Homo sapiens: one gene and its partner. The protein of the gene in region 2 purifies or fractionates together with the protein of the main gene of each other region. This does not show direct contact. Each region holds a gene or a part of one and is shown on either strand. Other genes may lie near its edges.

Region 1 (3,825 bases), on a different chromosome or scaffold from region 2:
CCTAGCTGAACCAATTCAGGTGTAGACACAGGAATTAGACAGGTGGGGCACAGGATATCACCTTTACCACTGATCATACAGCATTGGCATGTATGGCTTATGTGTGCTAGGCTGGTGGGTTTGCTAATGCTCTCTTCCCCAGGTCTAAATCCTGAAAGGTCCACCCAGGGCAGTGGACACACTTACCCAGAGTTGCTGCCTTGCACTGGTCCTGGGGAACATAGGAATAATAATGGCTGACACATACAGTGTTTACTGTGTTCCAGGCATTGTTCTAAGCACATTTTATATATTATTCACTTAAATCTCATACAAACCCTATAAAGTAAGACTCTTTATTATTATCCACATTTTACAGATAAGGAAACAGGCACCAAAATGTTGAGTAATTTGCCCTATCTCACAGAGCTAATGTAAGGTGGAGCCGGGACAAAATCCAAAGAAACTGGCTCTAGAATCCATGCATTTAAATGCTACAAGATGTCCTTCTCCAAACAAACAGAAAATCATAGTCCTTACAGACAGTTTGACAGATTGTGGATGGTCCCCTATTGAGAACTAATGGTCACTTGAAACTGGGTCACTTACTGCTTCTCCTTGGGGAAGAGGGGTGGGATGAGAGGCCAGAAATGTTATCCAAGCACTGCTTCCCCCACTTAAAAACAGGGAGAAGCAGGGATTTTCATACCCAAGTTGGAGCTATTGCCAGTACAAGATAATTATTGACTCTTAAGATTTTATTTTATAATTATGTCCCTAGGAATTTATCTTAAGGAAATAATTCAAAAGAAGAAAAAGGCTGTATGGATATTTTCATTACAATAATATTCATAATAAAAAAAGTAGAAATAAACTATCCAAAAATAGTGCAATGTTTGCATAAAACTGTAAAAATCCAGGTCCCTTTGCAAGATACAGAGTTAGAAGAAAAAAGCAGAATATCAAATTATTCCCACCTTGGAATACAGCTATTTAAAATTGTGTATGCCTATAATGAGCAGAAGGGAGCAGGCAAATAATTTTGTCCTCCTCTGATGTGTGTGTGTGTGCGTGTAAAGTCTGTGCACTAAAAAATATGAAGGAAATCACAATATTTTAGAAATAATTTGAAAATGAATTCTCTGTAATAACTCATCTAGAACACGGGCATGTGGTATGAAGGGATTCTTGACTCCAAGGGCTCAAAATAAATGCATTTCTAATCATACTGAGTCTTTGACTCTTAAGTGGTGAGAGTTTTCTTTGCCTTTTCTTTCTCATTATAGTATAATGGAATGTGCTTACAAGGGCCAGCAGGAGTGCCTGGTCGAGACGGGAGCCCTGGGGCCAATGGCATTCCGGGTACACCTGGGATCCCAGGTCGGGATGGATTCAAAGGAGAAAAGGGGGAATGTCTGAGGGAAAGCTTTGAGGAGTCCTGGACACCCAACTACAAGCAGTGTTCATGGAGTTCATTGAATTATGGCATAGATCTTGGGAAAATTGCGGTAAGTTTGAATTATTTTAAAATTGAAGCAAGATTTAAGGGTTTTCATATTTTAGTGTTAATTTTTAGGTGACATTTTATTTTTTTTTAACTAAAAGACTTAAAAAAGAGAAGTAGGTAGCATGTGACTTTTAATTTAAAACTAATGAAAAAGTTTATAACATTTCAGAATTTCATAGAGATATTTCTAAGACAAATGCTTATCATTTTAACCATAGTATCTAAAATAACATACTTTTTAAAAATGCAAACAAAAGAGAGCATATGTGTCTGTGTTGGACAGTAAGCAACTTTCCAATCTTATCCTAAAGTAAATTTAAATTTAGTCTAAGAAATTCTGTCCTGGCTTCAGACATAAAGGTGGGAAAAAATTTCCAAGAAATTACCACATTGATCTGGAAGCAGAAGTCCATTGGTGTTTGTCTTTATTTAGGAAGCATGCCCAGCTTAAAACTGCTAAGCCTAAGAGAAGTGAAATGGGTTAGATGTGAGGTACTACAGTGATTATTTTAAGTTATTCTGCAACATTAAGGCTGAGTGGCAGAGAATTACTCAAAATAGCCTGTCCGGTCATGTATTTTGACTAATGTTTCAGTCACTTTGATTAGTGTTTGCTTCAAAAGTAATTGGCAAGTCCACTGGGATGGAAGAGAGTTGAAGAAGTTGATGCTATTTATAAGCCTCTTTTCTCTGTTGATGAACTCTGTACATGGTTCCATATTCACAACATATTACTTCATGATTTTACTGCTACCATCAAGCAATTACAAGAAATTTGTTTCATAAAACTCCAAGATTTTAAGATGCACTCTGTGTATAATCCCTGTTCCTTATCTCAGCTCTTTCTGCTCTATTAAGAGTTTGAGACTGTCTTGTTTTGTGATAGAATTTCCATGTAGCTTCCATAGTTATGATGACTATGACCTTTTCTGTGTTCATGTGTGTTTCTAGAAAACATTTTGTTAAAATGTTCCCTAGTTATTTAAACATCTGACATTGATAGACTGGTTGTTTATTTATAGTTGTTCATCAAAAGTTACTGAGTTCTTTCTAAAAGCTATCCTTGTGGGTTCTGAATTATTAATATGTTTTCAAGTTCCTTTTAGCAATGGTCAGGATGGGTATGGTAACCTTCTATGAGTAAAGGATAATAGGTCCATGAGCCAATAGACAGACAAATTTGCATAGACCAATGAGAAAATAAGCAAACAAGAAACCTGGGCCTTATCATTGCATCATATAGATAAAGACTAAAAACCCTGCCTATCCTTTACTCCCTCATACTGTTTGCTGTTGCTCGAAAAGAAACACGTCAAGAGTCAATACGAATGGACAGAACTAGTCTAGAATGTAAGTTCCATGAAGGTAGGGATTCTGGTTTGTTAACTGCTCTATCTGTACCATTTAGCACATAGTTGGGGCTCAGTAAATATTTTTTGAATGCAAAAAAAAGAGGAAATATATAAATTGATTTTATCAAAAGTACTGAAGGCTAGCCTTTTTTGATAAAACTGAAAGATACCCTCAATGGGGCGAAAAGTTCTGAGAAAGCTGCAATTTGATTTTCTTAGAGTTCCTATATCAAAATCTCTTACCTAGCTTGCAGAAAATCTCCCTCCCTCTATAAAAGTTAAGCTTTATTTTTGTTTATTTTAATTTTTTTGAGACAGAGTCTCACTTTTTTGCCCAGGCTAAAGTGCAGTGGCACAATTTCGGCTTACTGCAACCTCCACCTCTTGGGTTCAAGCGATTCTCACGTCTCAGCCTCCCGAGTAACTGGGATTACAGGCGTGCGCCACCACACCCAGCAAATTTTTTGTATTTTTAGTAGAGATGGGTTTCGCCATGTTGGCCAGGCTTGTCTCTAACCCCTGGCCTCAAGTAATCTGCCCCCCTCGGCCTCCCAAAATGCTGGGATTACAGGTATGAGCCACCACACCCGGCCAAGTTAAACTTTTTAAATACATTTTGGGGAAAAGGATAGTTAAGTAAAATTCACCAGTCTCAAAAGCTCTTTTTAATTAAAATAGAAAATGTTAATTAAATCCCATTTCTATGTTTGTGACAGGAGTGTACATTTACAAAGATGCGTTCAAATAGTGCTCTAAGAGTTTTGTTCAGTGGCTCACTTCGGCTAAAATGCAGAAATGCATGCTGTCAGCGTTGGTATTTCACATTCAATGGAGCTGAATGTTCAGGACCTCTTCCCATTGAAGCTATAATTTATTTGGACCAAGGAAGCCCTGAAATGAATTCAACAATTAATATTCATCGCACTTCTTCTGGTATGTAAAATTGTGACATTGCAAGATGTGCCTCAGATCTAAGTAAGATTAGTT
Region 2 (3,825 bases):
CAGGAGGCGGAACTTGCAGTAAGCTGAGATTGCGCCACTGCACTCCAGCCTGGGCGACAGAGCGAGACTCCATCTCAAAAACAAAACAAAACAAAAAACAAACAAACAAACAAACAAAAAAACTGACTTTGAAATTCTCTCTGGTCATTGTCATTGCCAGAGTCAGAAGGAGAAAAGCTTGCTGTTGCAAGCTTGTGGAAATATTTATGGATCAGGAATTCTGTTCAGAGAACTTAGTCACATTGTTTTCCACCCAACAAATGCAAAGGTGACATGGAATTGCAGTGCCAATGGAACAGAAGAAAGGGGATTCTGGTGAACAGCTAACCTTCTCTGCCCACTGGCTTCCAAATATCTGCTGAATTCTTCTTCCTACACTTACAATACATGTCTCCCCATCTCCCTGTCCCTATGGGAGACAGCCTGTGAAGCACAAATAATGCATCCAGCTCAAAGCCCTGAGTCAGTCAATGAGTAGTCCTTTTTATCAGATTGGTTTGTTGGCTGTTTTTCTCTTTGGCTCCTGGTTCTGTCCTCTAGGAGGGTCTTCTTTATCTGCTTTTCTCTGTGGCACATCTGAAAGGTGAGCAGGGCCTCCTCGAGGCTCTCTCACAGCCCACTTCCTGCTGGTGCAAATTTGAAAGCTGAGTCAAACAGCCCAAGCCTCTGGAGTCTGGTTTTGTGTCTCTGGCAAACCCATTTCCTCAGAAACTTACTTGGCAGGCTTTTACTCTGTTTTTTACTCGATTTTACTCTATTTACTTAGCTGGCTTTTACTTCATTTGTTAAATAGATTAAGTGAAGTCAGTTACATGTGTTACTAAACCACACTCCATATACTTTTCTTGACAGTTTTCAGCCTGCTATTCCTTGTCTTCATGCCTTTCTCTCAAGTTAATGGAGTTACCCTGAGGCCTTCTAAAGCAATCGATTTGGGCAGAAAGGCAATATTTTTAATCCATCAGATTGTGCCACAGCTGTGTCTACTTGATTGAATGAGTAGTCTTTTTTTATTATGATTTTACTTTAAGTTCCAGGATACATGTGCAGAATGTGCAGGTTTGTTACACAGGTATACATGTGCCATGGTGGTTTGCTGCACCTATCAACTCATCATCTAGGTTTCAAACCCTGCATGTGTTAGTTATTTGTCCTAATGCTCTCCCTCCCCTTTCCCCTCACCCTGCCACAGGTCCTGGTGTGTGATGTTCCCCTCCATGTGTCCATGTGTTCTCATTGTTCAACTCCCACTTATGAGTGAGAATATGCGGTGTTTGGTTTTCTGTTCCTGTGTTTGTTAGTTTGCTGAGAATGATGACTTACAGCTTCATGCATGTCCCTGCAAAGGGCATGAACTCATTCTTTTTTATGGCTGCTGAATGAGTAGTCTTAAGGAAAAAACATCAACTTTATCACTGCTCTTCCAGATATAAAGACACCTGGCTTTTTTAACCTTGTTAGGCCCTAATCACGTAGACATTATTTACTTCCTTTTCTTCAAACAAGTCAGTTTTTGCCTAACTCATCTTTGGTAGCAACATCTTTCTAAAAGCAGCAAAGAGTACTTTGGCTTTTTCCAGTCACTTCCCTTTCTTACCCTACAGGCATTAGATCTGTCTTCCAAGTTATCACATTTTCCAAATGTTTTTGCACAGTGTAACATGGATCTTCTGCTTTCCCAGACCATGATATTTGTTTCCCCATTGCTCCTTGCCTGACCATGAGCCAGTGCAAGCCTATTTTTATTTGGGTTGCGGAGCAGCCTCCTTTTGTACCAAATTCTAGCTTGGTTAGGGGAAGCTAAATTACTGTAACAAAAACCCAGTGGAATAGCTCAAACATAATATAACTTTCTTTCCTTCTCATCAAACAGCCCAAGGTTGTTCCAGGTTGGAGCAGAGAAGAGAGAGAGCTCTTTTCCACATGGTCTCCAAGAACCCAGTATTCAACATATGGCTTCTAAGATCATTCTGGTCATTGTCATGAACATTCCAGACAGTCATAAGAAGGAGCAGGGAGGGGTTTTGTGAGAGTGTTACTAGCCAGCTTTAGAAGTGGTACATAGGTCATTTCTGCTCACAGGCTGTTTAGAGAACTTAGCCGCAGGATTATACCTGTGGGAAGGAGAGAAGGGGAGCACAGACTTTGGTGAAGAGCTGGTTGTTCATGGCAAAAACTAAGTAGTTTGTTCCTCTTTTTCTTTCCAGCTATGAAATGAAGGGCAAATCAGATACATCCAGCAATCATGCTGTGCTGAAGCTAGCCAAAGGGGATGAGGTTTGGCTGCGAATGGGCAATGGCGCTCTCCATGGGGACCACCAACGCTTCTCCACCTTTGCAGGATTCCTGCTCTTTGAAACTAAGTAAATATATGACTAGAATAGCTCCACTTTGGGGAAGACTTGTAGCTGAGCTGATTTGTTACGATCTGAGGAACATTAAAGTTGAGGGTTTTACATTGCTGTATTCAAAAAATTATTGGTTGCAATGTTGTTCACGCTACAGGTACACCAATAATGTTGGACAATTCAGGGGCTCAGAAGAATCAACCACAAAATAGTCTTCTCAGATGACCTTGACTAATATACTCAGCATCTTTATCACTCTTTCCTTGGCACCTAAAAGATAATTCTCCTCTGACGCAGGTTGGAAATATTTTTTTCTATCACAGAAGTCATTTGCAAAGAATTTTGACTACTCTGCTTTTAATTTAATACCAGTTTTCAGGAACCCCTGAAGTTTTAAGTTCATTATTCTTTATAACATTTGAGAGAATCGGATGTAGTGATATGACAGGGCTGGGGCAAGAACAGGGGCACTAGCTGCCTTATTAGCTAATTTAGTGCCCTCCGTGTTCAGCTTAGCCTTTGACCCTTTCCTTTTGATCCACAAAATACATTAAAACTCTGAATTCACATACAATGCTATTTTAAAGTCAATAGATTTTAGCTATAAAGTGCTTGACCAGTAATGTGGTTGTAATTTTGTGTATGTTCCCCCACATCGCCCCCAACTTCGGATGTGGGGTCAGGAGGTTGAGGTTCACTATTAACAAATGTCATAAATATCTCATAGAGGTACAGTGCCAATAGATATTCAAATGTTGCATGTTGACCAGAGGGATTTTATATCTGAAGAACATACACTATTAATAAATACCTTAGAGAAAGATTTTGACCTGGCTTTAGATAAAACTGTGGCAAGAAAAATGTAATGAGCAATATATGGAAATAAACACACCTTTGTTAAAGATACTTTCTAAACTTGTGTTTAATAAACTTTAATAGTCATAGAATTGTAAATCACTATGGTTAACAGAAAGTGAAAATATTTTCATGCAGATGATGTGAACAGCCATGTGAATAGGTGACTTGGGCACACAGCAGGGTCATATGACTTCAGAAAACTTCGCTTTTCAGTTATTCCATTGTTATAATGTCAACCCTTTAAGACATTGATGTTTAGAGGGCTCACAAATAAAATCTGAATACCTGTAAGGAAAGAGGTTTTTTATCACATACCTTAAGTCTTTGTAATGTTCATGCTTAAATTCTAAGTTTTCACCTTAGTGACACACAAGGTTTGGTTGTAGGCAACAAGTCCCAGGTGTGTGGGAAATTGATTCACAACAGAGATGGGAAAAGGTGCAGATAATTTCCAATGCCTTCACAATTTACCCATGACCAGAAATATACTTGGAAGACTGATTTCACAAGTGTCCCAAAACTGAGATGCTAAAAAGGAAACAGTAGGTAGGTGTCATAGGAAATTTACATGTACCATCTAATAAACAAACTTGCAAATTCTAAATCTTTTTTTTTTTTG

The links.
Region 1: the proteins of C1QTNF3 (region 2) and CTHRC1 purify together in Homo sapiens (affinity purification with mass spectrometry; one large-scale study listed by BioGRID and IntAct). This does not show direct contact.

The regions. Positions count from the first base shown.
Region 1 is NC_000008.11:103,374,473-103,378,297, forward strand, and holds part of CTHRC1 (collagen triple helix repeat-containing protein 1 isoform 1 precursor), read left to right. Parts: intron 1-1,265; coding exon 1,266-1,487; intron 1,488-3,554; coding exon 3,555-3,771; intron 3,772-3,825. UniProt on the Homo sapiens protein: May act as a negative regulator of collagen matrix deposition.
Region 2 is NC_000005.10:34,019,125-34,022,949, reverse strand, and holds part of C1QTNF3 (complement C1q tumor necrosis factor-related protein 3 isoform b precursor), read left to right. Parts: intron 1-2,207; coding exon 2,208-2,367; 3' UTR 2,368-3,825.